Linked DNA regions of Homo sapiens: region 2 is linked to region 1. Evidence: fine-mapped expression QTL. A gene starts in region 1. The other region holds a variant in brackets. All regions are shown on one strand. Distances are between the middles of the regions.

The links.
Region 2: its variant is fine-mapped to the expression of PGK1 in blood mononuclear cells (TOPMed, PIP 0.97).

The regions. Positions count from the first base shown.
Region 1 is chrX:78,102,689-78,105,188 of GRCh38, reverse strand. It overlaps PGK1 (phosphoglycerate kinase 1), which reads right to left and starts at 941. Exons shown (of 11, transcript NM_000291.4): 1 at 784-941. The coding sequence starts at 848. RefSeq lists a silencer at 995-1,054.
Region 2 is chrX:78,066,880-78,069,902 of GRCh38, reverse strand. No RefSeq gene overlaps it. Among named protein-coding and RNA genes, the nearest start is that of PGK1, 36 kb to the left of the region's middle. The variant C/A (reference allele first, on the strand shown) is at 1,373.

The DNA of each region.
Region 1 (2,500 bases):
TAAGAGACCCAAAGTGCACGAGGAAACTTCCCCCAATTTTAAAATTCTACTTTTCTAGCCACACGTGGGGATGAGATTGGAGGCCAGCAAGTATGAGCAGCCACACCCTGCTCTACCATTACCTAGTATGTCACAATCCTGATGCAAATCCTGTGCCCAAGAGTCCAACGATACCGCGCTGCAGGGCAGCAGACGCCTGTTACGTAAGCTCTGCAGGGCCTCCTCCAGTTCGCCCCGCCCTACCCTCCCACCCCAATTCTTTAGTGGCGGGGGGCGGGGGGGTCTACTCCTGAAGTTAAATCAACATCCTCTTGGAAAAATATCCTTTTGTGCAGGAACCTGTGAGATGTGGGCCGTTTCTCATTTGGCTGCGACGGTCTAGGAGCGTGGGGGAAGGGAAAGTAAAATGACCTTTCAAGGTCCCTTCCTTGAAGCCTAGAGATTTGCAGGATAAGCATTAAGTCCCATCTCGCCGACTGGGAGCTGGAGGCAACGGAACTGCATTTCACCAATAGGAAAAAGGACAAAATGGGTCCCAGCGGCAATCTCAGCCCTTCCTCAGTGGGATCCATCCCCGAAGGGTGACTTCGGGTGCTTTCTGGGCTGGGGAAAATGCGGCTAGAAACCACCAAACCCGTGAGCAGCCTCGCCCTCCAAGCCTAGGACCCCTGGGGCCCAGCCAAAAGCTAAAAGAACTTAGAGCAGACGAGAGAACAAGTCGGCTCCGGCCAAAGAGGTTTGCGACAGAGCACAGAGAGCACGCGGGCAAACGTGCAGAATTACCTCATAACGACCCGCTTCCCTTTAACGTCCAGCTTGTCCAGCGTCAGCTTGTTAGAAAGCGACATTTTGGAAATACAGCTGGGGAGAGAGGTCGGTGATTCGGTCAACGAGGGAGCCGACTGCCGACGTGCGCTCCGGAGGCTTGCAGAATGCGGAACACCGCGCGGGCAGGAACAGGGCCCACACTACCGCCCCACACCCCGCCTCCCGCACCGCCCCTTCCCGGCCGCTGCTCTCGGCGCGCCCTGCTGAGCAGCCGCTATTGGCCACAGCCCATCGCGGTCGGCGCGCTGCCATTGCTCCCTGGCGCTGTCCGTCTGCGAGGGTACTAGTGAGACGTGCGGCTTCCGTTTGTCACGTCCGGCACGCCGCGAACCGCAAGGAACCTTCCCGACTTAGGGGCGGAGCAGGAAGCGTCGCCGGGGGGCCCACAAGGGTAGCGGCGAAGATCCGGGTGACGCTGCGAACGGACGTGAAGAATGTGCGAGACCCAGGGTCGGCGCCGCTGCGTTTCCCGGAACCACGCCCAGAGCAGCCGCGTCCCTGCGCAAACCCAGGGCTGCCTTGGAAAAGGCGCAACCCCAACCCCGTGGAATTCGAGGCTGCCCTACCAGGATCAATGCAAATGCCACCTCCTTTTGGAAAATCCTGGTTTCCTAGCTCCCTTCATGGAATTCTGCTTCTTAAGGCTTACTTAGTAATAGAGACCTCTCAGAAGTTGGAAGAGGCCCAGGTCCACTCTGGCCCCCACCTTTTTTAAAATAAAAAATGCAATGTAATTTTTCTGGTTATGGCATGATTGATGCTAATGGCAAACACGTGGCATTTTTCATATATTAACCAACGCTCACAAAACGCAGTAGTGACTACTGTTATCCTCATTAGGCAAATGAAATAACTGATGCACAGAGAAGTTTAGTGGGCCAGGCGCGGTGGCTCACGCCTTTAATCCCGGCACTTTGGGAGGCCAAGGCCGGCAGATTGCTTGAGCCCAGTGGTTCGAGACCAGCCTGAGCAACATAGCAAAACCCCATCTCTACTAAAAATACAAAAAATTAGCTAGACGTGGTGGCGGGCACCTGTAGTCCTGTTACCCGTGGAGGGTGTCCAAGTTCTTAGCGTCTTGAACTAAGAACTGGACGAAATGCACAAAGCAAAGAAAGAATGAAGCAATAAAAGCAGAGATGTATTGAAAACGAAAGTGTAACCGCCCAATGGGTTCACCTTGTCCGCTGCCTAGACAGAGCTGATTTATGAAGACGGGAATTGCAATGGCGAAAGAATAATTCACGCTGAGCGCTGTGCGGGAGACCAGAGTTTCATTATCACTCAAATCAGTCTCCCTGAGCATTCTGGAATCAGAGTTTTTAAGGATAATTTGGCAGGTATGGGTTCGGAAAGTGGGGAGTGCTAGTTGGTCGGGATGAAGATTAAATCACGGGGTCGAAGTGAGTTCTTGCGAGTTCTTCCTGGGTGGGATCGTGGAGCTAGTTGAGCCAGATTATCAGTCTGGGTGGTGTCCTCTGCTGCATGAGAATGCAGGGTCTGCAAAATATCTCAAGCACTGATCTTAGGATTTGCAATGGTGATGTTATTCCCAGAAGCAATTTGGGGAGGTTCAGATTCTTGCAGCCAGAGGCTGCATGGCCCCTAAACTGTAATTTATAATCTTGTAGCTAATTTGTTACACCTACAAAGAAAGGCAGACTGGTCCCAG
Region 2 (3,023 bases), 36 kb after region 1:
GCCTCAATATCTTCATCTGTAAAATGGGGATAATAATTGTACCCACTGCATAACATTGTTATGAGGATTAAATGAGTTAATACAGGTAAAATATTTAGAACAGCACCTAGCACAAAGTAAGAACTATGTAAAAGCTTTTCAAATAAATAAATATATTTATGATTGCTTTTCTGCCCCCTTAACTTTGTCCACTTATATTTTGAAATCCAAAGCTGAAGCTTTAAGAAACCTGGACAAAAGTATAGCCCAAAGAAAGCTGAATTCCCTACTCCGGTACCTATAGTCCCTGATAATATGACCCCATATCATTCTTGCTATTTGAACAGCTTTGCAAGGACCTTCTTTTGCCCATCTGAAACGTCAGAATCCTATTTCAGAACCTAAGGAGAAGGGGAGACATGCTAATCCCTTTCTTGTTTTCTTGGTCAGTGTCGGTGTTGCTGCAGCTGAGGAGAGAGGCCATTTCTCCTACTCTCCCCTGTCTCCAAAGAAAAAGGAGGAAGTGAAAACTGAAAAATAATAGACTGATTGGGGCCACTGGCCAGGCCTGTAGGTTAAAGATTAATCCCCACCCTAACCACTTGTGCTATCTATAGATCACAGAAAATGGTATGGAAAAATACTTGCCTTGCTCACAATCCTCACCTAGTCACCTACCCCATGCTTGCTCAATCTATCCCGACCCTTTCACATGGACCCCTTAGAGTTGTAAGCCCTTAAAAGGGCCAGGAACTCTTTCTTTGGGGAGCTCGGTTCTTGAGACGCAAGTCTGCCAATGCTCCCGGCCAAATAAAGCCTCTTCCTTCTTTAGCCCTGTGTCTGAGGGGTTTTGTCTGCGGCTCATCCTGCTACACAGTAAGAAGAGGCTCCCTCATCTTTTGATCTAAGATGTACTTTCTGGTTTGGCAGATGGTCAAGAAAACTAGATTCCAGTCTTAGCTACAGTGAGTCATCTGGAGCAAATCGTTTATTTGCCCTGCATCGATATGTCCATCAGAAGGATCTCACTTCAGCCTGGCTGGCTTTCAAAACCAACAGCATTAATGTGAGGGTCAGGGAAGTGACAACTCTGGTGATCATAGAAGAAGAAAAGGGCCATGCACAGTGGCTCACGCCTGTAATCCCAGCACTTTGGGAGGCCAAGGTGAGTGGATCATCTGAGGTCAGGAGTTGAAGACCAACCTGGCCAACATGGTGAAACCTCGTCTCTACTAAAAATACAAAAATTAGCTAGGTGTAGTGGCTCACACCTGTAATCCCGACCACTTGGGAGGCTGAGGCAGGAGAATCACTTGAAGCCAGGAGGCAGAGGATGCAGTGAGCTGAGATCACGCCATTTCACTCCAGCCTGGGCGACACAGCAAAACTCTGT[C/A]AAAAAAAAAACAAAAAACAAAAAACAAGAAGAAAAAGCCAGGCATGGTGGCTCATGCCTGTAATCCCAGCACTTTGGGAGGCTGAGGCAGGTGGATCACCTGAGGTCAGGAGTTCAAGACCACACTGGCCAACATGGTGAAACCCTGTCTCTACTATAAATACAAAAATCAGCCAGGCTTGGTAGCACTCACCTGTAGTCCCACCTACATGGGGGGCTGAGGCAGAAGAATAACTCAAACATGGGAGGTGAAGGCTGCAGTGAGCAGAGATCGTGCCACTGCACTCCAGCCTAGGCAACAGAGTTAGACTCTATCTCAAAAAAAAAAAAAAAAGAAGAAGAAGAAGAAAAGCTCCCTCAAATCATGCATATCCAAGTTCAAATCCTGGTTCTGCCTGACATTGTGTCTCCTTGGGGAAGTCAGATCACATAAAGCTCAGTCTTATCTGTAAAAGGCAATAAGAATCTCACAAGATTTTTGTAAGGATTAAATATGGTGAGATAAGAAATGTAAATATCTAGCACACAGTCCTGCAGTTGATGTTACCATATGTACCTGTATTCAATATACTTTCCGCCAAATGTATATGTACATTACTCAGTGTCTATAGCATACTGTTATTATGACAGGAAGCCAAGAGAAGGAGATATGAAATGACAGATTGGCTTAACTGCAAACACAAGTTTGTATTATCTCACCACTGCTCCAGAATTCAATATTTAAATGAATGAACTAAATTTTGCCCCTGAAAAACACTATTAAATCACTTTTAAAACAAGTATGATAAAGAGTTGAGACCCCCCCCACCAACACACACACACACACACACAAATTCACTGTGTAATGGAGATAGTTTTACTGTCTTGTGCATCTTAAACATTGGCAAATGTAGGTAGTCTCCCCTCATTGGTCCTTCCCTCATCCCTGCCTGTCCCCTTAACATTTTGAGTGATAACAGGCATTGTTCCTGTTCTAAAATGTAGAAATGAAAGCAAAAGAAGCCCAAGGTCATATACCACGTGTCTAATGGAGTTGGGCATAATAGGGAGAAGGTGAAAGAACTAAAATAACTAGAGATGCCTAGTTTGAAATAGAGAAGGTTCAGGGGCTAACATAACTGTATCTTGGCAACCATCATCCACCATTCACTATTTCTGCAGAACCTCTTCTTCCAGGCCTCTGTACAAAGAAGGCCAACTGCTTCTTCTAGATTTTTATTTATTTTTTATTTTTAATTAATTAATTAATTATTGAGATAGAGCCTCACTCTGTTGCCCAGGCTGGAGTGCAGCAATGCGATCTCAGCTCACTGCAACCTCCACCTCCCAGGTTCAAGCAATCCTCCTGCCTCAGCCTCCCGAGTAGCTGGGATCACAGATGTGTGCAACCATGCCCAGCTACTTTTTGTATTTTTAGTAGAGACGGGGTTTCACCATGTTGGCCAGGCTGGTCTCCAACTCCTGACCTCAACCAATCCGCCCGCCTTGGCCTCCCAAAGTACTGGGATTACAGGCATGAGCCACCGTGCCTGGCCTTCTAGAGTTTTTGTTTTGTTTTGTTTTGTTTTGCTTTGTTTTGTTTTTTGAGACAGAGTCGCACTCTGTCACCCAGGCTGGAGTGCAGCGGTGCAATCTTGGCTCACTGCAACCT